Linked DNA regions of Homo sapiens: regions 1 and 2 are each linked to region 3. The links come from fine-mapping of genetic effects on gene expression. A gene starts in region 3. Each other region holds a variant in brackets. All regions are shown on one strand. Distances are between the middles of the regions.

Region 1 (8,000 bases), 63 kb after region 3:
CTGTGGTGGGAGGATGGCTTGAGGCTGGGAGTTCGAGGCTGCAGTGAGCAGTGATCACGCCACTGCACTCGGCCTGGGCAACAGAGTGAGACCCTGGTTCAATCAATCAGTAATTTGTGTATGGCACACACATACCTTGCTCCCTTTTTTCTCCATAGCCTTTTATATACTGTGTACCTTATTAATCTGTCTCTCAGCTAGAACATAACCTTTTCTATGGATGGAGATTTTGTGCTTTGTTCACTTCTGTATCCCCAGTCTCTGAAAGAGTGCTTGGTACATAGCAGATGCTCAGTATATATTGAGTGAGTGAATAAAAGATCTGTTTGATAATTTAGCTCCCAAACTGTGGGATTTGAATAGGAGAAATGATTGCTTGAACATTCAAATTAGAGACAGGAAATTTTTTTTAGACTTGTGAAACAGAAGAAAATTCACCAAGGTTACAGATTGGGCTTCTATTATAATACCCTGATCTCTTTAGGCCCCACTAGGTAGTTTCAATTTGAGCACAATTCCAGTGTTGCATATTTGGAGGAGACTGGCTAGAAATTTCTCCCTTCTTTGTGGTTTTTATTGAATTTCTCTGGTAAAAATATATTAATGGCTTTTCCTATGCCACTCTCATCCTCTCCTGCACTGAATAATTTCTGTTCTGGAGTAGTAGTTTGTAAATTTGAGTAAGGTATGAATTATATCCAAAAGAAGAAATGTATTGAGGTTCTTCAGTATAGATGTAATTTTCTAATTTCTATGTTACAAATATATATGCAGCTATAAAGAGCAAATAAATACATAACACCTCAATATTATTTTGATATTAATTTGGTTAGAGTTTGGAAAACTAAATTGAGGCGTGATATATATATATACACACACACACATACCAACATGGTGTGTGTGTATATATATAAAAAAATATAAAATATATAAAAATATATATAAAATATATAAAAATATATATATACCAACATGGTGTGTGTATATATATATATGTGTATATATATATATATATGTATATATATATGTATATATATATGTATATATATATGTGTGTATATATATATATATGTATATATATATATATATACCACCATGGTGTATATATAAATATATATATATATACACCACCGGGGTGTATATATAAAAATATATATATACACCACCGGGGTGTATATATAAAAATATATATATACACCACCATGGTGTATATATAAAAATATATATATACACCACCGTGGTGTATATATAAAAATATATATATACACCACCGTGGTGTATATATAAAAATATATATATACACCACCGTGGTGTATATATAAAAATATATATATACCACCGTGGTGGTATATATAAAAATATATATATATATACCACCGTGGTGGTATGTATAAATATATATATATATTTAAATATATATATAAATTTAATATATAACTCATTCTCACTACTTTTCTCCACTTGAACTGCAACTGGAATCTTTGATCACACATCTTCTGGCTTTCATTTTCATTCATTAAATCAGGTTTGCTAGCACATTGGAGCATAGTAGGTGTTAAATCGTTAGTAAATGCACGAGCTCTAAAGTACATCCTTTTTGATTATCCTTGGGCATTTTTCTCACCTATACATTCCATACATAGTAGCAATAATTATGGCAAATGTTACTGTCCTTCAAAGTGTCGTTATGTAAAAATGAACTGATTTTTAAAAGGTCTGCCTAAGTGTGAACCGAGGTCTGGAGCTATCACCTCTTCATAAGATCCCAGGTAATGCAGATTAACTTCTGTTTTGCATCTGGGTAATGTTTAATTATTTGTTGATTATTGTAGAAGTGTTTTTGGATAAAAAGCTCTTTCTCAGATTGTCTTTTACTTTGCTTTCTAAAACTAGGAGGGAAGTATAATACATGATGGGACTGAGTGTTAGTATGGACATATTGTCAAATGTTTTCATAGGGAGAACTTGGTGTACCTCATTATTTAGATTTTTTTATAACTTAAAATGTGGTATGTTTTGAACTTTTAGTTTATCAGAAAATGTTGACTTTTGATGTAATGGCTACTTCTGTAGCTACGGTGATCTTCAGCAAGTTTCACTTTCTAAACTTTTATCTTTTCTGTGCAGTGGTTGCAGGTTGTGAGGTATGGAGATACTGAGGGGTACGAGGCACTGTTTGTGGTGACATGAGAGCCACTAGCGGACAGAGACTGGGGAGAAGGATTGATCAGCTGGCGCATTAGCCCCAAGATGCAGGTGAATTTGGGAACAGAAAGAGGGCCAAATGAGATGTTTGTGAAAATACTTTGTCGATTTAAAACATTCCTTCCAGCTCAGGTGCTGTTATGTTTAGGGAAGATGTGCGTGTTTTCTCTTTCTAGTGGGCTATTGTTAGCTACAAGGTGACCTTGCCTCCTGCTTTGAGGGAGAAGGAAAAAGCTGGACCCACAAGACACAAATCCCAGCAGTCTGTGGTTACTGCTGGAATGATTACTGTTCTTTATTTGTACTATTAGTTGTCTCTAAGATTGGTAACAGGAAAGTGAGAATAAGCTTACTCTCAGAAATTTTTGTTGAGGGAGTTTTGTATAATTTCTGACTATTACCACATTCCCCTTTACTTCGACCCTCTTGGTTTTGCTGTTTGCTGTGCTCTAGTTTTACCATCTAATAACCCAGCACTAAAATCTGATCTTGGGTATCAGATTCTCCTTTGTGGTTTGGTTTGTTAATAATTGAAGTACCTAATGGTTCTGGGTGTGAACTGTGCATACTTGACAATCTAGAACCAGGGAAGTGAGTTTCCTATTGAAGTAATTAATAAAACCTTGTGGCTCTTAAAAATATATAAAAACTGTTACACAGAAATAACCAAAATGTAAACTTAACAGGATATAGTTTAATTATGTTTTTATAACATAAACCTTAAAGATAGAAGTATTTTTAAGCTTGTTGGTGTCCTGTTCCTTTCTAGTTTGGGTGTGTAGGAGTCTTTTTTATCAGGAATTTTGTTAGTGCTAATGCTGGGGTGGCTTTTTTTTTTTAAATCTATGTAAACATGACCCTATTAGACAGCTGTGTTTAATGTAGTAAAGACTCATGGGGAGACTTTATAGTGTTTCTTGTTGGGACTTAGTGTCTGTATATTTTAGTATTTAAAGGATGTGGTTTGGTGCTTTGAAAATGAGAGGGAGGTCACCTAACTCATAGCTGAATGCCTGCGTGTCTAGATTGTTCCGTCCTGGAGGTTATTAACAACATGAAAGTTGTTTTTATTCTAGTTAAACTGATAGTATTAAGTTAAATAACTTTATTGTGGAAGTGTTTGTTTACACATGGCTGCTGAGTAGAATTTTCCTTAAAATCTGATTACATAGGAATGTTTTAGTAAATAGAGTGCTGGAAAAAAGCTGCTACACAAGCCAGAGCCTGTTGTGCTTTGCAGAACAGTAACCAAGATGAAGAGTGGCCTCTTTTTCTCCACCTTTTCCACCGCTCATCTCAGAGAAAGCAGGGCGCTAATCAGGTGGAGCTGCTTAATTGCATTAAGTTCATGGGCTGCTCAAGGGTTGATTAGTCAGACTCATAAACTTCCA[G/C]TTATGAGATGCTTGCTGACTGGCTGGTTTAAGTCCTTAGGGTTTGATGCACATTCACTCTAATGAGTACTTACATGTACAGGGCACTGTGCTGTGTGCCCTGTGATGGACACAGAAAAGAATAAGATTACTTCTATCTTGAAGACAGGGTAGAACCTGGGAAGTGTCCCAGGGTAGAAACTGGGAAGGCACAGTTCTGGGAATTCAACGGAGGCATGTAGTTAGTAGCCATTGGGTAATATTGATGGGGTGGGGGTGGGGCAGTAGATGTGATCTGGGCAACGAGGAGCCAGTTGGAGAAGTGGTTTCAGTAGTTGCAGTGGGTAAAGCATGATAAAGATGCTCACAAAGCAGAGAGGAAAAGTAAAATTGACAGGATCAGGCCACTGTGAACATGAAGGGCAAGTTAGAGGAACTCAGGCGGAAGCTCTTCATCAGGAGCCCTGGAGCTTTCCCCAAAATCCTACCAAAATCACTTATGTATGTGCTTTGGTATTTTTGGGTGGCAGAGAACTTAGACCTTTTCTCACATGTTCGGAAGGGTCCAGCATCCAAAAAAGATTGACCACTGCTGCGCTGAGTTTTCATCCATTGGTGACAAGATGGTCAGACTTCTAGAGAAATAAGGTAGTTTTGTGGTAGAACAAACTCTTCCTTGTGGGAGGTATAGTGGGATTTGGGGAATAGGGTTTATGAAATGGTCCCCAGAGTGGGATGGCTTGCCTTTTCAAACTGGGTTTCCCACCCAGCAAGTTAAGTTGACCCATTGCAGTGGATTGAGTGGAGGGCAGGTGAAGGGCAGGTGTTTTCAAGTCAAAGGAGTTCAGGTGAAGGGCAGGTGCTTTTAGTCAAAGGAGTTCCTTAGCATTATTTCCTCCTTTATTTGGAGATCAGATTGAAGATGTAGGGGACTAGAATGCAGTTGTAGTTTGTGGTGTTTACTTTTTATGGAAAAGTGCCTCTTATGTGAAAAGTCTTCTGTGCTTGATCCTGGGGGTAGGGGGGTTATAAAAATGTCATACCTGGGATCCTGCCCTTAAGGAGTTGATGGTAGGTAATGCTTTCCTTTGGCTTTTTGTTCATCTTGAGTCTGTGTATGTTCAGTTATCTTCAGCCATTTCCTGGGCAATGGGAAACATTTCTGTTAAAACAAACTTCTGACTTTGATCTGTGACTTATATTTCTTTTTAGATAATGAAGAACCACTGGGATTAGAGGGTGTATAAAATACAATAATAAGTATAGTGTATGTAGGAACCTCTGTACAACCAATTTGGTGACTTTTAGGCAACTCATTTGACTATTTGACTGTTTGTTACATGAGTGTGCATTTGGCTTTGTTTAAAATTCCTCTATAAAGCACATTTTAAAAAATGACCCAGTACTTAGTATATAAGATGAACTGCCATTTGTATAATTGATCATTTAAAAATGCTTATTATACTTTTAATCAATCAGTTTCCATGTTTATGAAATGGGAATAATTATTATATCTAGCTCATAGAATTGTCCTGAAGATGAAATTTATATCCATATATACATAATGAAGCTCTTTAGAGCAATGTATAACTACATGCCAACTGTTCAAAAAATATTAATGGCTACATCACTATTAATATTTTAAAATTAGTACTGTCATTTTCCCTTCCTACATGACTGAATGTAGGAGGTGACTATTTTTGTTATAAAAGGATTTCCAATGAGATACCTTTGAATGGTAAAATTTCCTATGCATTTATTTAAATGTTTATATATATATGTCTTTAAAGTATGAAAGTTAAGTGCACTTATACAAGGCAGATTCAGGTACTAATTAAACTGCTCATTTAGATTACAGAATGAGGGACTGAAAATTATATGTATTTAATTAGGAATTGGATTGATTGGTCTTGACTGCTGTTGTCTTTCAGTTCTTTTTTATTGTTATACTTCCCATGTGTTTGTCTCCTTTTCTTTTTATCTTTTAAAAATTGCTTTCTGATTTATTTCCTGTTCAGTTTTCAGTAATGGGTGTAGAATAGGGCAAGAACTTATGTTGGTGCCCGTTGTTTGAACCAGGAAGGAGCAACTGCATCAGACAGCCTGGGGCTCAGTTGGGAGGGACTTCAGATCAGTCCCTGCAGAGCTGCCTGGCCCAGGGAACCACTGAATTCCAGTTTCCTAACTCCAAATCGGACAGTTTGTGGGTCTACACTGTATGTACATAATGAACATTTTAAGGCTCATTCATCCAGTGTTTTCCACATGCTCCCATTTGTTTAGTTCTCCTTTTTAAAAACCAATAATTATGGAAAAATTTAGCTATGTACAGAAATAGTAGTGAGAAACCCCCCACTTAGCCATCATGCAGCTTCAGCAGTTGATCATCTCATAGCCAGTCTTGTTTGCTCAATACTCCCAACCATTTCTTTTCTCCCATTTTATTTTGCAGGAAATCCCAGACATTATATCATTTAATCTAAAAGTATTTCAGGATGTATCTGTAAGAGATGAGGACTCAAAAATGCATACACACATTTTGAGAACTTCCCAGAAATGTAAAAAAAAAAAATGCTATACACATATAGAATATATACATGCACGCACACACACACACACACACACACACATATATACTATTTTATGGTCTGTCTGACTCAGAATCCTATGTGGTGTGTTTGGTTGGTAGGTCTCTTCACTCTTTTTTTTATTTTATTTTTTTTTTTTTTTTGAGACAGTCTCACTCTGTCGCCCAGGCTAGAGTGCAATGACACTATCTTGGCTCACTGCAACCTCCACCTCCTGGACTCGAGATCCTCTTGCCTTAGCCTCCTGAGTAGCTGGGACCACAGATGTCCACCACTGTGCCTGGCTAATTTTTGTATTTTTAGTAGAGACAGGGTCTCACCATGTTGCCCAGGCTGGTCTCTAACTCCTGAACTCAAGGGATTCACTCACCTTAGCCTCCCAAAGTGCTGGGATTACAGGCATGAGCCACTGCACCTGGTCCATGCTTATGGTTATATTTTAATGCTATTTTCTTCTATTCTCTAGCATTTCTCATTCTATGGAACAATTTTTTGTAAATAAATCCGTTATAAATTGACACCACAACAGTATATCTGTGCATGTTCTCTTCCATGTGTTCTGTATAGTTGTACCAGCCTTACTCTTTGATAATGTCATCGTCCTCAGGCCTCCGCTCAAGACTATCATATTCAATTTTTGAAGTCTCTTTTTGCCAAAAATAAAACTTGAATGTTTCTAATGATGGCTGCTTTTATTGCTAAGTTGATTTCAATACATTAGAAAATTACAGATTTGGAAATGAAAAGACTAAGGAATTGATGCATCTCTCTCAAATGTGCCTTGAGGGCAGAAATTCCTCAGTTTTGTTCATGCTGAAGCCGCAGGCTAGCACAATATCCGACACTTAGAGGGAAGTTAAATATTTGATAAACAAATGAATTTAATTTTAAGTAAGGTGTCAAACTTGAGGCATCCAGAATTGAACCTGAAGCCACAGTTCTGCCTCCTTTCACAGTCACACATCTTATACTCCACTTACCACTTGAAGATAAGCTTGCTGAGGAGTACCCTGCCATGGGCCCTTCAGAATCTCCTTTCCTCATTGCATAGTGTAGTGGTAAGAGCGTAGGCTTTGACTCCTGACCGCACACATATTGAGCTCTATGATATGCTTCCTGTGCGAACTTAGCAAGTTTCTTAACTTGCCTCTGATTCAGTTTCTCCATCTACAATTGGAGATAAGAGTATGTACTTCTTTTTTTTTTTTTTTTTTTGAGATGGAGTCTCGCTCTGTCGCCCAGGCTGGAGTGCAGTGGCACGATCTCAGCTCACTGCAACCTCTGCCTCCCGGATTCAAGCAATTCTCCTGCCTCAGTCTCCTGGGTAGCTGGGACTACAGGCACGTGCCACCACACCCAGCTAATTTTTTGTATTTTTAGTAGAGACGGGGTTTCACTGTGTTAGCCAGGATGGTCTCGATCTCCTGACCCCATGATCTGCCCGCCTCGGCCTCCCAAAGTGTTAGGATTACAGGCATGAGCCACTGCGGCCAGCGAGTATGGACTTCTTTTATGGGTATTGTGACCTTGATCTTTGTAAGTTCCTTAAGCCATCTCTGATTCAGTTTCTTCATCTACAGTTGTAGATAAGAGTATGTACTTCTTGGGGTTTTATGGGTATTTTGAGCTTAAAACAGTACCTGGCACATAGTAAACATTGTAGAGGTATTAGAGCTGTTATTATTCTAGAATAAAAACAAGTTATTCTCCTCTTACTCATTTTTACCTTTTATCTCTAGCTCTACCTTGGTTTCTTTTCTTAGGCCTAAAAACAGGCCAGGCGTGGTGCCTCACGCCTGTAATCCCAGCACTTTGGGAGGCCAAGGTGGGTGCATCA
Region 2 (8,000 bases), 76 kb after region 3:
CCTCTCACCTTCTAGTCACCCCTCCATCATGAACTTTTGACTTCTTGTCCACTGTACTTCCTCACAGCAGGGTCACCAGGGGTCTTTATCACCAAGTGGGCACAATTCTTTATTTGACCTTGCTGCTGACTGTGCCTTCCTTTTACAGACTTTTTTTTTTTCCTGATTATGAAAGTAATACATGGTCATTGTGAAAAATTTTGGAAAAAGAGTTGTTATCTCTATCCAGAAAACTTTCTCCTCATTGAAATGTTTCTGTGACAACTGTCTTCTTCCTTTCCTCCTGTTTCTCTTGACCAGACCTGAGTCATTTCGCCTCCTGGATATCTCTGTCTTGTAGGCACTCAAGCCCAATGTTAATTTTTGTGTATGTGTATTTTTTTTTTTTTTTTTACTTTAAGTTCTGGGATACATGTGCAGAATTTGCAGGTTTGTTACACAGGTATACACGTGCCATGGTGGTTTGCTGCATCTATCAACCTGTCATCTAGGTTTTAAGCCCTGCATGCATTAGGTATTTGTCCTAATGCTCTCCCTCCCCTTGTCCTCCACCCCCACCACCCACCAACATCCCCAGTGTGTGATGTTCCCCTCCCTGTATCCATGTGTTCTCATTGTTCAACTCCCACAGTGAGAACATGCGGTGTTTGGTTTTCTGTTCCTGTGTTAGTTTGCTCTCCCCATGGGCTCTCACAGCACCCTGTGCTATCCTTCTGACACGTATAACATTTGTTGTAATTGTCTGTTTGCTTTTCTGTCTCAAGGGCAGCAACGATGTTTTACTCATATTTATACCAGTGTCTAGCCCAGAGCGGCTAGGACATTTCTGATAATAAACGGGTAGGGCTGGGTGTGGTGACTCACTCCTGTAATCCCAATACTTTGGGAGGCCAAGGTGGGAGGCTTACCTGAGTCCAGGAGTTCAGGATGATGATGGGGTCAAATGATGACCCCAACATTTATTAAAGTGAATTTACCTCTGCCTCCCCTGCTCCAAGTATGCTCAGCCACCTGTTGCCATCTCACTGGGAGGCATCACTCTTCATGTAGTTGCTGAAGCCATAGATGAGGACCCATCCTTGACTCCTCTCCCTCATCCTCCATTTTCAGTCAGTAGTTAGAAACCTTCTTGTTATTCCTGTGAACCCATTTACTTGTCATCTCTCTACTCTTAGCACCTTAACTTAGACTCTCTTTATTTCCCACCTACCTGAATTTCCTAAAAGCATCATCCACTTTTGAAGGCTTAGGACTTTGCGTATCTTCCCTCAGGGCTTAGCTTAGAAAATCAGGACTTCTCTGACCTGTTCCTATACCCTCAGGTGAGCTTGGTGCTGATGTCCCCTTCTCCCTCTTCATCCATACCTCTTCCTTCTTCTCCCCGTCTCCCCATGGGCTCTCACAGCACCCTGTGCTATCCTTCTGACACATATAACATTTGTTGTAATTGTTTGCTTTTCTGTCTCAAGGGCAGCAACTATGTTTTACTCATATTTATACCAGTGTCTAGCCCAGAGCGGTTAGGACATTTCTGATAATAAACAGGTAGGGCTGGGTGTGGTGGCTCACTCCTGTAATCCCAATACTTTGGGAGGCCAAGGTGGGAGGCTTACCTGAGCCCAGGAGTTCAGGACCAGCCTGGGCAACTTAGTGAGACCCTGTCTCTACAAAAAATTTTTAAAAAGATTAGCTGGCCATTGTGGCATGTGCTTGTGGTTGCAGCTACTTGGGAAGCTGAGGTAGGAGGATTGCTTGAGCCTGGGAGGTTGAGGCTGCAGTGAGCCAAGATCACGCCACTCACTGTAGCCTGGGTGACAGAGGAAGGCCCTGCCTCAGAAAGAACGAAATTAAATAAATAAAAAATGAGTAGAAGGAAATGAACATTTGTAGGTTGGAGGTTAGTATAAAAAATCTGATGCTACATGTTTTATGGTCTTGGTCTTGGCTGCCTTCAAATTGTATCTTAATATAATTGGCTTTCACTACCTAGTCTAGTAGTCATGGTTCTGTGAACAAGCTTTCAAAGTGTGAAGTATGGTAGAGCAAAGCAGGAGTAAAGCTGTCAGGTTGGCTGGAATGGGCCTCAGCACTTTGCTTGTATTGATAGAGGTTAGGTTTTCCAATAACTGATGACAGTGTAGCAGAGATGACTAGGGCAGTTGTGCTAGGGATAAAGAGTGGCACAGTTTAGTGACTTGGCGATGAGATGTGGGGATCAGAAAGGAGGAATCTAAGTGACTCAAGCTTCTGGCTTAATGGACTAGGTATACTTGAGGCTATCATTAACTAGTAGTGTTGATTTTGAGATTCTTTTTGATATCCAGGTGAGTATGTCTACCAGGCTGTGGGATATGAAGTTGGGGAGAGTGTGTCACTGGAAATGTTTGAGTTAAAACTACAAGAAATCACTTAGATATATAGCTTAAGAAGAGTAGTGGTCTAGAAACAGAAAGAACTCTGAAGAACACTGATGTTTAGGGGCTGGGGAAGAAGAGAGCTGGGAAGTCTATGTCAAAGAAACTGAGGAGCTGGTGGTTGAAGAGGGAATTTGGCAATAAAAAGGCCATTTGACCTTCAGCTCTAGAAGCCAGGAAATTAAGAGAAAAAAGGCCGTTGAGTTTATTGTGTTTTAAAAAGAAAATATCAAGAAAACGGGTGTGTTTTTACCCAGCCCTTAGATGAGATGCTTCAGTATGGACTGTCTGCTTGGCATTTTGTTGGGCAGTTCCACCTTACCCGTTAGTAGCCCAGCACCCCAGTCCACATCCAGAATCCTACTCTTACATTAGATCTAACACATGACCTCTAAAGTCCCTTCCAATTTCAACCTAACATTAAAAACAGATTCTGGGCCCAGTCTGAGAAATTGTGATTCAGCGGGCCTAGGGGATCTTAATTTCTTCTAAGGGCCTTTCTGAGAATCTGAAGAACATTGATGTGTAGGTGCTATAAACCTGCATTTTACTTTATTGCAAGAGAGCAGGACTTTATTATAGCAACAGTTTAAAATACAATTGTGATGAAGAGGTTGGCAACCATGGAAACCTAGCTGGAGCTTTACCCCACCCATGCCTGCCTTTGTGTGTGGGGGTGACTTGGGGGTGGGAAAGTGCCACCATCTGTTGTAATCTGTTGGAGATTTAAAGTTTTTGCTTTATGGATTTTTGCAGCAGATGCCCTTTGCTCCCTGCATTATATCCTCTCAGGCCATCACTGGTTTCAAACAAAACTTAGATTTTTGTAGTTTCTCTGTGTCTTGCCAACAGCTTTCTATTTTCTGCCTCAGGGCTCTCAAACCCAGCAAATGATGGGGAAAGGCTAACCTCAGGCAACCTTCAACCAGTGAGGGATTGGAGCTGGTGCCTAAATGTCCTGCTTCTTTCAGGGGTCTCACAGAATCACCCCACTTTGCAGCAGTCACCCTGTGTGTCCTTACTGGCTATTTTCCTTCCCTCACGTCTGTTCCCTGGGATCACCTCCTATTTTAATCTTGCTAAAATCTTGCACACAAAGTGTTAGTTGAGCTGACTTTAAAGCTGGAATGCAAATAAAAGCCTTCTGTAATTACATTAGTTTCTTTTTAATGTCCCTCTCTATCAATAATAGCACCTAAAATAATATATGGGGGAAGAAGTCAAAGAGAACATATTGTGCAATGCACAATGGCGCACATATTGCTAAAGTTTAAATTTATTCATAGATACTGTGTAATGAGATCATTATGTGAGAATTTATTGGGTTTTTCAACACTTCCATTTCTTTCATTTAGGAATGGGGTTGAACGGATATGAAAATGTAGAAAATAGTTGGCACAGAGAGCACTAGGTGTGCCTCTTTTATTCATTTATATGTCATCCGTTCTTGAATTCTGGGTAGCTCTATTTGTAAGACTATACAGTATAATGATAGAAAGCTATTAAAAATGTCACAGTGCAGAAAGGGGGAAGATCTCTACAGATGATTAGGCTATAAATTGCCAAAGATCAGAAAGACCCTGATAAGATCTGTTTCAAAGGTTTTGTTTGGTTGGTTGGTTGGGTTTG[T/C]TTGGTTGGGTTTTTTTGTTGTTGTTGTTTTTGGAGACAGGGTCTTGCTGTGTTGCCCAGGCTAGAGTATAGCAGTGTGATCATAGCTTACTGTAACCTTAAACTCTTGGGCTCAATAGATCCTTCTGCCTCAACCACCCCATTAGCTGAGACTACAGGCACGTGCCGTCACACCTGGCTAATTAAAAAAAAATTTTTTTTAGAGATGAGGTCTTGCCGCGTTGCCCAGGCTTTCCTAGTTGAAGCATACATCTTGGACAGCTCAGTGTATTCATCCTCGTTTGCTCCACATTTACTGAGTGCCTGCCATATGGCAGCCTCTATGGTAACTGTTTTCAGATACCAGTTTTAATCACTAGGAATAAACTTGGTCCCAAACTCCTGGCCTCAAAGGGTCCTCCCACCTATGCCTCCCAAAGCACTGGGATTATAGGTGTGAGCCACCATGCCTGGCTCCTATTTCAGGGGTAACTTTTAAAAAACACTTTGTATGCTTTAAATGCAAAATTTCTCTTTATCTGGCTAGAAGATATCAATATCCATAATTCTTTTATCTGAGACTAGAATGTAGGATTTAAAAGTTGAAGGTGAAAGGTAAACTTGTTCCAGACGATCACTTTCATTCTTGGTGATTAAAACTGATAACCTGAAATCAGTTACCACAGAGGCTGCCATATGGCAGGTACCCAGTAAATGTGGAGCAAAGGAGGATGAATATACTGAGCTGTCTGAGATGTATGTGTTCAGCTGCTGTCCCAGTGAGCAAGAGTAGGTGAAACTTCACGTGCTTAGACCTGTAGGTACTATTGCCTCACTCCCACCAAACTGGGACTGCAGATCTTTAGTTTCTAGGTTTATTTTGCAGGAGTCCAGCCATCCCTAGAAAACACTCTTTCCTCAATCCAGGGTGTTTTGTGTAGCAGTGGGCTGTTTTATGTAAATTGTACATTGACAAGTTCATTAGGTTATCTAGTATTTCAGCCCCTCAGTTAACATTTCAGCTGAGACCGAGAGAGGAAGTGACTTGCCCAAGGTAAAATCACCATGTCTAGATAATCACTGATATGGCAGGGACTGGAACACTAGTCTCTGCATGTAATCATCTTTTTGTCTCGTTTCTGAAATAGCTCCCATCTCTACCCCTGGCCAAGGACCAAAACAAGGCACCATCTTTCTGAACTAGTTTAAAATGGTTTTAGAATTAATAAGGACTGTAGGGTCTATATTTAAGATGGTTACAGGAAATTCGACAGTTAAATGTTTCTACACATAGATTATTTAGAAAATCAAGACTAATAGATGGGCAAAGTACACAGGAAGCAAATGAAAAATTGTAAACATCTAAATATTCAGTATTCAGTGGTATGGGAATAGTTTAGGAAGCAATAATTTTCTTTTTTTTTTTTTTTTTTGAGACAAAGTCTCGCTCTGTTGCCCAGGTTGGAGGGCAGTGGTGTGTGCGATCTTGGCTGCAGCCTCTGCCCCTAGGTTAAAGCAATTCTTGTGCCTCAGCCTCTCGAGTAGCTGGGATTACAGGCACGCCCCACTACGCCCGGCTGATTTTTGTACTTTTAGTAAAGACAGGGTTTTCCCATGTTGGCCGGGCTGGTCTTCAACTCCTGTCCCCACGTGATACGCCTGCCTTGTCCTCCCAAAGTGCTGGGATTACAGACGTCAGTCACCATGCCCGGCCAGGAAGCAATAATTTTGATGGGCTGTTTGCAACTAATAAAATGCGAATTGTGATGATTTAGAAAGGGTGTTTAAAAATCTAGTAGGGATCTTGGAGGAGTTCTTTTTATACTTTCCTTTCTTCTGTACTATGCCTAATACTTAGTTGTTTTCAGGAAGTTCAGATTTTTTTTTAATTTAAAAGGTTAAAGTTTACCAAATGTTAACTGAAGTCAGTTTCTGAAGTTCTTCAGTCAAAACCAATTTATTTTCTGTAAAAAAAAAAAAAAAGTACTACACACCATATAAACTGGTAGCTGTTTGTTATTCTTGATATGTGCAGTAAAAACTATCATGAGAGAGTTGGTAAAGATTTAATGAACTGGTAGAACATGTTTTTCTTAGTTGCTAAGAACCATCTGAGCTTAAATTTAAAAACATTTTTTTCTAAAAACAAAATTGGTTTCTGAATCAAATGTGTATTTCTTTCCTATAGGGGCTTTGTTATGCACCTAAAGCCATATTGGAAGCTCCAGAAGAAAGAGCACCCCCCGGAAGTCAGCAGGGAAACGCAGAGAACTCCTATGAACCACCAAAAGGCTGTAAATGATGAAACATGCAAAGCTAGCCACATAACATCAAGTGTCTTTCCTTCAGCCTCTCTCGGTAAAGCATCATCTCGAAAGCCATTTGGGATCCTTTCTCCAAATGTTCTGTGCAGTATGAGTGGGAAGAGTCCTGTAGAGAGCAGCTTGAATGTTAAAACCAAAAAGAATGCACCATCTGCAACGATCCACCAGGGCGAAGAAGAAGGACCACTTGATATCTGGGCTGTTGTGAAACCTGGAAATACCAAGGAAAAAATTGCATTCTTTGCATCCCACCAGTGTAGTAACAGGATAGGATCTATGAAAATAAAAAGTTCCTGGGATATTGATGGGAGAGCTACTAAGAGAAGGAAAAAATCAGGGGATCTTAAAAAAGCCAAGGTACAGGTGGAAAGGATGAGGGAGGTTAACAGCAGGTGCTACCAACCTGAGCCTTTTGCATGTGGCATTGAGCACTGTTCTGTGCACTATGTGAGTGACAGTGGGGATGGAGTCTATGCTGGGAGGCCTCTGTCAGTTATACAGATGGTTGCCTTCTTGGAGCAAAGAGCCAGTGCTCTGCTAGCTAGCTGTTCAAAAAACTGCACAAACTCACCTGCAATTGTGAGGTTTTCTGGCCAATCCAGAGGTGTGCCTGCAGTGTCTGAGTCCTATTCTGCCCCAGGAGCTTGTGAAGAACCCACAGAAAGGGGAAATCTTGAGGTTGGTGAACCACAGAGCGAACCAGTCCGTGTCCTTGACATGGTAGCCAAGTTGGAGTCTGAGTGCCTGAAGCGGCAGGGCCAGCGTGAGCCTGGGAGCCTCTCAAGGAATAACAGCTTCCGTCGAAATGTGGGCAGAGTATTGCTTGCAAATAGCACTCAGGCTGATGAAGGCAAAACAAAGAAAGGCGTCTTGGAGGCACCTGACACTCAGGTGAATCCTGTGGGGTCTGTATCTGTGGATTGTGGCCCTTCAAGAGCTGATCGTTGTTCTCCTAAGGAGGACCAGGCCTGGGACGGTGCTTCTCAGGACTGCCCCCCATTGCCAGCAGGAGTGAGTTTCCACATAGACAGTGCAGAGTTAGAGCCGGGTTCGCAAACTGCCGTGAAAAACAGCAACAGATATGATGTGGAAATGACAGATGAACTCGTTGGGTTACCTTTTTCCTCTCATACCTATTCCCAAGCCTCTGAATTGCCCACAGATGCTGTTGATTGTATGAGCAGAGAGCTTGTGTCCCTTACTAGCCGAAATCCTGATCAAAGAAAAGAATCTTTGTGCATTAGTATCACTGTGTCCAAGGTAGACAAAGACCAGCCTTCCATTTTAAACTCCTGTGAAGACCCAGTTCCAGGGATGTTGTTTTTTTTGCCACCTGGTCAGCACTTGTCAGACTATTCCCAGTTGAATGAAAGCACAACAAAAGAGTCTTCAGAGGCCAGCCAGCTTGAAGATGCTGCTGGGGGTGACAGTGCATCTGAGGAAAAAAGTGGGTCTGCTGAGCCATTTGTACTGCCAGCCTCTTCTGTGGAAAGTACATTACCAGTGCTTGAGGCATCCAGTTGGAAGAAGCAGGTGTCGCATGACTTCCTGGAGACCAGGTTTAAAATCCAGCAGCTTTTGGAGCCTCAGCAGTACATGGCTTTTCTGCCCCACCACATTATGGTAAAAATCTTCAGGTTACTTCCCACCAAGA
Region 3 (8,307 bases):
TAGCTCTTATCAGATTTTCACAGGGGCACAAGATCTAAAAAGAAGGATAAGAAGGATAAGAACTATGATTTCCTGGGTTTCAATACTTATTCAACTTTATGTCCCTCACCATCCACATCTTAATTATAAGATAGAATCATATCTGTTAGACAGTGTGCTGCCTTGGTGCTCTAGTTTTCCCTGAGTTGTTCTATTTATTGTGGATAATATTTATATTCTCATGGCTGAGTAGCTCCTGCCCATCCCCCCGTCATCACCAATGAGCTTCACACATGCATAAACCTGGGCATAAGCTCAGGGCTTGAAGCATGCTCCAACGGCCACATTCCAGGCATATTTTTTAAGTACATGCTTTACTTTTGCAAAGTTGAAACTTTTAAAAGCACTTCTGCTTCTCTTTTCTTATTTGGTCTTTATAATAACACAGTCAAGTAGGTAGGGAAAGGCATTATCACACCCAGCGGCCTAGGTTCTGCAGCAAAGTAGGTCTAGATGCAAAGTCTAATGGAGCCTGTCTCTTGGTTTCCTTTCTCCAGCAGCGGGGAAGTAAGTTTGATAAGGAGGGTTGGGGGGTGAGAGAGAGAAGATGAAATGGTGGGTGTCCTAGTCTGTTTTATGCTACTATAACAGAACACCTGAGACTGGGTCATGTATAAAGAACAGAGATCTATTTCTTACAGTTCTGGAGCCTGGGAAGCCCAAGGTCAAGGGGTTCATAACTCTTGAGGGGCTTCTTGCTACATCATCCCATGGTATAAGGTGGAAGAGCAAGAGAACACCTAACAGAGTGAGAGATAGAGAGGGCCAAGCTTGCTTTTATAGTAACTCCCTCTCTTGATAAGTAATCCACTCCCTTGATAATGGCATTAATCCATTCATGAGGACGGAGCCCTCATGACCTAATTGCTTCTTAAAGGTCCCGCTTCTTAACACTGTTGCATTGAGGATTAAGTTTCTAACACATAAACTTTGGGGGACACGTTCAAACCATAGCAGTGGGTGTTTTTATTTGGAGGTTGGAGTAAGCTTATTAAGGAATAAGCAGTAAGTTCTTAGTTTTTTTTTTTTTTTTTTCTGAGCAAAGAACAGAAATGAAACCAAGTCTATACAAGACAAATCCCTTGAACTGAGTTTTAATTAATATGTTTGCTGGCTTGAAACAACTAAGTTTTAATTACTAATGGAATAACCAAATATATATACTATATATATTTAGAACTTTTCTGCTGCTGTGCCACCTCAGTCTTGTTCTTCTTTCGGCTCTCACCAGTCCCATGGCCTCAATGTGCCACCCCATGCCCACCTGGGGAGCACCTTCCTGAAGACCTACCACAGGACCTGTGGGTTGATAAACTATACTGGCTCTACTGGCTTTGCTTCTAGGGGATCATTGCCATTATACAAATGGAGAAACAAAATCAAGGGAAGTTCTTGCCTAACATGGTTATGCTCTCTCCTAGTTCTTTTCTCCTAGACTGGGGCTATTTAAAGTGTGGTTCACTGGCCAATCTGAGACAAGAACTGAAATTGAGAATCAGATTTTAGAAACTTTACTAGCAATTTGACAGAATAATTTTATGTCTGTGGACTTTAATAATCAATAATTCATAGGCTAGGCATGGTGGCTCACTCCTGTAATTCCAGCTATTTGGGAGGCTGAGAAAGGAGGATTGCTTGAGGCCATGAGTTTGAGACCACCCTGGGCAACATAGTGAGACCCTGCCTCAAGAAAAAGATGAAAAAATATAATAATTAATAGTTCGGGCTTTTATTATGTCTTTTAAAATTAATTTCATTTTTATATCAATTTTTTGAGTCCTCTAATCAACAGGAATCAAGTTTTGTTTGTTTTTTTTTTTTTTTTAGATGGAGTCTCACTCTTGTCGCCCAGTTAGGAGTGCAGTGGTGTGGTCTCAGCTCACTGCAAACTCCACCTCCCAGGTTCAAGCGATTCTCCTGCTTCAGCCTCCCAAGTTGCTGGGACTACAGGCGTGCCCTGCCACACCGGGCTAATTTTTGTATTTTTAGTAGAGATAGGGTTTCACCATGTTGGCAAGGCTGGTCTTGATCTCCTGACCTCAAATGATCTGCATGCCTTGGCCTCCCAAAGTGCTTGGATTACAGGCGTGAGCCACCATGCCCAGAAGGAATCAAGAGGTTTTAAGAAGGACAGTGTTTGAGATGAATCTGAAAGGATAAACTGAAGTTTTACAATTTTGAGCTAACTATGACATAAAGAAGCTTCAAATGATCATGATATATTGAGCTAATATTGCTCACATATTAAATCAGACATACAGTTTGATGCCACGGTGTACCATATAACACCCTTCCTTAATTTTTTTTTTCCTTTTTGAGATGTGAGCCACCGTGCCTGGACTTCCCCTCTCCAATTTTTATTAAAAATATGTATATAGATAAAGGTCTAGATGGAGATACTGAGTGGTTATTTCTTGGTGATGAGATTATGGGAAATATTTTTATTTTGTTTTTACGTTTTAATATTTAAGATTTTACACATATATTTTACAACAGTAGTTTTATAATTGGACAAAATTATTTTTGTTAAGGACTGGCTAAAATCAAAGTTGCTGGTTTAAGTGTAACTTGGTACAACCTTTTAAAAATCATTTGGCAGTTTGTATTAGTAACTGTGAAAGTGTTGATAGTCTTTTTCACCTAGTAATTTCACTTTTGGGTATCTTTAAAAATCTACATTCATGAAGATGTTCTATGATTTCTTTATAATGGCAAAAAGTGAATGAAGGAAACAAGTTATGTCCAAAAATAGAGAATTACTGCAGTAAATTTTATGTCCACTTAATGTAATTTTATGCAGCTGTTAAACTGGTTATGAAGCTTATGTGGAAATATGAGGAATGCTTATAAAAGTGAAAAGAGGATGCAAAATCGCGTACAACTACTATTACAGTGTAGTAAAATATATGTGATGGGGCAAAAGGTCTAGAAGAAAATACATTGTCCTCATGTTTTTCAATGTGGTTAATATTATTTTCACAATGAAAACAATAATAAGCTTAAAGATTGGGAATCAAAAGTTCCTCACTGGCCCTCTGATTTGAATATAAAGTGTTAAAAATTTATATCCATCATTAACCAGCCCTTAAGCTTCTACAGACTTTAACAGTTTCGTGTCAGCCTCAACGTTTATCTACTTTCTGACCGGTATCCCTGCCATGATTTTCATAGGAAAGAGAGTCAGAAGGGACCTTTCCAATTTTGTCATTTTACAAATTGAAACTCTGAACCCCAGCCTTCCAAGCTAGCAGCAGAACCAGTATGAGGATCCAGGTCTACTAGGTTATCTAATAGTATCTGAGACCATTTACAGCTTCAGGTCCACCCACGAATATTCATAAACTTGACATGTCTGCTGATTGAACCCTGGCGTCACTACCCTTCTTGGCTGGCCTGGGAGGTTTGATTCCTTTCCCTACAGTCGTGCTCAAACTTTCATTCTCTACCACTTGGGGGCCGCAGACGCGTCATCCAGGTCTCCCTTTTCACTTCCCCCTTCCCGCCCCCAGTGTCCGGCAGGGGGCGCCGTGAAACTCTGGATCCGTGGCCCCTCCCCCGGCCAACCGTCGATTGGGCCGGCGCGTGACGTCACTCCGTTTTAGCCAAACAAATGGGTTTCGGGGCGAGCGTTGGGCGCCGCCGCGCCGCGCTGGGTGCTCGGTCCGACTCAGCGGTGGGGAGTGAGCCAGGCCTCCCGCCACCGCTGCTGCCGCCACCACTGCGTCGGGCTGGTGCAGCCCCGGGCCAGGCCGCGGCCGGGGCAGGAGCGCAGGTGGGTCCGGGCCGAGGTGGGGCGTGGCGCGAGGGCCGCGCGACTGGGGTCCGGCGGCGGCCACCGTGGCCGCTCCCCGCCCCCTACCGCCGCCTGCCTGCGCTCCCGGGGCGCGGGGCGGGTGGGGGTGGGGGCGGGGGCGCCGCCCGCGGGTCCGGGGTAGGGACCCGGCCGCCTGCGCCTCCTCCGGTGCGGCTCTTTCCGCGCGCACGGCCCGGGCGCTGAGCGTCCCCGCGGGCCACGGAGGGTCGGGCGGGTAGGGAGCGGGGTCCTGGGTCCCCGCTGAAGCCGAGGAGATTCACGGATAGGCCGTGAGCTTGCACCGGACCGGCGCTCCCACTTACGGGACCCAGGGCGGTGAGGAAGTCAGCCTCTGGACTGGGGTCGCCTCGCCCCTGTCGCGCCCTCCCGGGCTCGGCCACTCTGCCCTTCCCTGCCCCAGCGCAGGTGAGCTGGCGCTTGTCCTTAACCTTCTTCAACGACGAGGCGGGACGGAGGCTCGGACGCCTCCCCAGCCTCTGGGCTGGCGCAAGTCGACTGCGGTTCGTCCTCAGTCCACGATGAAGTCATAGGGCTGTGGGTCCGTGTGTCTGTGACGTCAGAAGATGGGTCCTGGGATGTCACTGCAGGCCCGGGCGGGGACCTGGGCTCACGGAAGGGCCGGGGGGACCCGCAGGGTAGAAAAAGGAAGTTGTCTTCCACGAACGCTTGGAATCGCAGTGGATTTGAATCGAAAGTTGTTCGGTATCAGCATTTTGCAATTTTAATGTAATAGTTGTCAATTTCTTTAACTTCTTGTCCAGCAAGCGTTGCGAGTACAGCTCAGTATAAGACATTTGATTTAGAAAAACTTAAGTCAGGGTAGGAGGTTTTTTGGAGGGTGTAATGTAAAAAGCCTTTTAGGAAGCTAAATTCGTAGTTTGATAGTTTGCAATCAGAATTACTGAAAAAAAAGAGAACCACTTCTAGTGTTGATAAATCAGTTTGCTTTTTTTTTTTTTTTTTAACTGGACATCTATCTGCTTGTTAGCATTTTTTGTTAGAAAATGGCCAGGAGGAGGGAGAGTGGATCTTACATGATTTTTTTTTTCTGTTGTAAAGGGAGGGAGGAGTTTGAATTAATCCAACATTTGTCTTAAATAATAATTACCTGAGGAGTTAATTTATCCAGGTTGTCCCTATCCCACCCTATGGTACCATGCTACCACCCCATGCTACCATGGTTTAGAAGTCAGCAACAAGCTGTTTTCTTGCTTTCTTACTGAGACCCGGCTATAACTTAATATAAAAACATATTCCAGGACCGCTTGTCTGGATAGGTAACTAAAATTTTGTCTGTAGTGCTTTTAAATATGAAATTAGAGAATAAAAAAATGATTTGTCTGTGAATACTGTTTTTCTTCCAAAGCTTTCAGAAGAGATCTAACTGGAAGAGAAGCTAGTCACTTTGTCATAGTGACCCTCTTCGGGTATTCCAGCATATCAGTACTTTTCATTTCCTCCTCTGTAGAATAATGTAAATGGAATCTAGTTCAAAAGGTAGATGGCTTAAACTTGAAGCATAGTTAGTCTTTAGCAGGAAGCTTGGGTAGAAGTCCTTAATCCTTCCTCACTGACCTTGACTTGTAATGGTACGGTTTTTTTTTTTTCCTCTCTCTCAATACTTCCTGCTCCCCATTTGCCTTTTAGAGGTGATTGATAAGATACTGTCTCTCTGGGTTTTACATCAACATGCAGATGGAAGTTATGCCCATTTTCAGGCAGGAAATAAAAGCAAAAATTTACCCGTTAGGTACTATTGGATTTGACTGGAAGTTCACAAAACAAGGCTTTCCTGTACATGTTATTTTGATCCTCACCACAACCTTGGGAATTTGACAGCATTGTGTGCGCTACTGAAAGTTGTTCTGGTTTTTTCTTCCTTCTTTTAAGAAATGAGGAATTTTATGCTGACAGTGTTGAGTGAAGTCTCTAAAGATACAATTTTGTATACAAATTATTTTTCGTATGTACAAATTTTGTATACAAAATTTTGTATGAAAGATACACATTTGAGCCTTTGGATCACCAGAGACTGAGAGGCACTTGAATTATTATGCAACTGCTGATATTGAGAGTGTTAGTCAACCTTTAAGATGAAAGAATCTTGGCAAGATACTATGTAATGCAATTGAAGGAGGTCCAAAATGGACGCTTGCATGTGTCTTTCCCGAGCGGTAGCGATTCTGGGGCCGGCTACACGGCTGTATGTAAGTTAGGTGTACTAGTTTTTTTGTATGTTTTTTTGAAACAGAGCCTCGCTCTGTCACCCAGGCTGGAGTGCAGTGGTGCGATCTCGGCTCACTGCAACCTCCGCCTCCCGGGTTCAAGCGATTCTCCTGGCTCAGCCCCTCGAATAGCTGGGACTACCGGTGCGTGCCACCATGCCCGGCTAATTTTTGTATTTTTAGCAAAGACGGGGTTTCACTGTGTTGGCCAGGCTGGTCATGAACTCCTGACCTCGTGATCCGCCCACCTCAGCCTCCCAAAGTGCTGGGACTACAGGTGTGAGCCACCGTTCTCGGCCAGGTGTGCTAGTATTAATGGGAAAGGATGAAAGTCAGACTAAATAAGAGTTGAAAGACCTGCAGCTGATAAGGAGATACCTGCTATTCGGCAGTGCATTTTTCCTCTCTATTTTGCTTAGCAGTTAGGAAGTTTTTATTTTTCCTCATGGAAAATGAGTTAATAGGTGAAGAATAAATGTCATAGTGCATACTGATGTGACTGAGGGACAACGACAGATATTTAAAAAGCCAGCTTGTGAGTGTTGTGTAATTATCTAACAAGCCAGAACTCGTGTGAAACATTTTTACAGTCTGTTTCTATTTTTGGCAGGATCTTTTTCACCCATGCTTTCCAGTTTTGGGTCTGGGAAGCAGCTTTTACTTCATATAAATGGTTTTATGGAAATTAATTTTGAGATTGGTTTATTATTTTAAGTCATTTTATTCACTTATATAATTTGAAGGCACTAAATTAAACAGTCATTCGTTATCCATCTTTCTGATGGATAAAAGCAAATGTCAAGATGAGAGTGCTGTATTGTAGAAATTCCTCAGGATATGTTTATTGGATCAGTTATTTTATTAACATTTAGAATTTAAATTCTTAAAAATTTTTACTTTATTTTTTAAACTTAATTTATGTTCAGCTAGCTTAATTTGACAGTTTTTATGTTCTAGTAACTTTAATCTTGTTTTAATATTTGTTTGGGAGAAAACATACTTATCTTTAGAGACATCATTTAGTGTTATCTTCCAAAATTTGCAGCTGTTTAGAACCAGATACTTGAGGGAAGCTACTATGGTATGATGAATGCCTTCCTTGTTAGGTCATGTGTGACAAAGGCAAAATTCAGCAAGTGCATAATCTGCAGTCCTTTGGAAGCAACAAAAACAAAAAAGAGCAGATTAACTCGAAATGCATTTAGGTCATCTGGAAATTGAATTCCTGTCAGTTCTTATCTTTGCATAATTTATCTTCTCCCCTTTAGTTAATGCTTATGGTATTTTGAAGCTGATGACATACTTTATTTTCCAGGAGAGCATTAATACAGTGTAGTTGTTTGTTAGTGTTGGTTAAAAGAACTTATCAACCTTTCATTCCCACCTCCATCTTCTAGTTAATGCTCCACAGAAGAGGCTCTCAGTAATCCATTTTAAAATATTCAGCTTCAGAAACCTAACATGTACATTTCCTATCCTCAGTAGAGTATAGGTGTAAATATGAAACTAAGTGCTATGTAAGTGTGGTTATTGCATTATTAGGTATGGATTTCATTCATCCAGCAAACATTTTTTTGAGTATTTCTGTGCCAGGTACTCAGATAGGGACTGTGACACAGAGATGATATATCCTTGCTGCAAGGACCCTTAACCTTTGTTTTAACATTGCCTTGCTATGATGGGTCTTGGGTGTGAGAGGCTAGAGTTGGGTCAAGAGGATAAACTATTGGCCGGGTGCAGTGGCTCATGCCTGTGATCCCAGCACGTTGGGAGGCTGAGGCGGGCAGAACACGAGGTCAGGAGATTGAGACCATCTTGGCTAACACAGTGGAACCCCATCTCTACTAAAAAAAAAAAAAAATACAAAAAATTAGCCAGGCGTGGTGGCGGGTACCTGTAGTCCCAGCTACTTGGGAGGCTGAGGCAGGAGAATGGTGTGAACCCGGAAGGCAGAGCTTGCAGTGAACCGAGATGGCGCCACTGCACTTAAGCCTGGGTGACAGAGCGAGACTCTGTCTCAAAAAAAAAAAAAAAAAACGAGGATAAACTATGTTATGCTAGATTGGCCAGAGGTGTTAGTTAAAGGTCAATTTAAGGAGGTATTAGAAACTCAGTTAAAAAGAATAGGGAATAGCTTATCATAGCCCAAGACAGACAAAGGGCCTAGATAACCACAGATTGAGATTGTGCTAGAATGAATGGAACTTGGTGAGTTCGGGCTTCCTTAGA

What was found. PIP is the estimated chance that this variant, and not a neighbour inherited with it, causes the effect.
Region 1: its variant is the best candidate, but not a certain one, in a credible set for the expression of FBXO34 in cerebellum (GTEx, PIP 0.53).
Region 2: its variant is the best candidate, but not a certain one, in a credible set for the expression of FBXO34 in whole blood (TOPMed, PIP 0.58).

What each region holds. Positions count from the first base shown.
Region 1 is chr14:55,330,690-55,338,689 of GRCh38, forward strand. All of the region lies in intron 1 of FBXO34 (F-box protein 34), which reads left to right. Among named protein-coding and RNA genes, the nearest start is that of FBXO34-AS1, 63 kb to the left of the region's middle. The variant G/C (reference allele first, on the strand shown) is at 3,597.
Region 2 is chr14:55,344,171-55,352,170 of GRCh38, forward strand. It overlaps FBXO34 (F-box protein 34), which reads left to right. Exons shown (of 2, transcript NM_017943.4): 2 at 6,211-8,000. The coding sequence starts at 6,221. Among named protein-coding and RNA genes, the nearest start is that of ATG14, 64 kb to the right of the region's middle. RefSeq lists a silencer at 5,442-5,491. The variant T/C (reference allele first, on the strand shown) is at 4,044.
Region 3 is chr14:55,267,727-55,276,033 of GRCh38, forward strand. It overlaps FBXO34 (F-box protein 34), which reads left to right and starts at 3,695. Exons shown (of 2, transcript NM_017943.4): 1 at 3,695-3,811. FBXO34-AS1 (FBXO34 antisense RNA 1) reads right to left here and starts at 4,352. Exons shown (of 2, transcript NR_184222.1): 1 at 4,156-4,352. RefSeq lists a silencer at 3,747-4,246.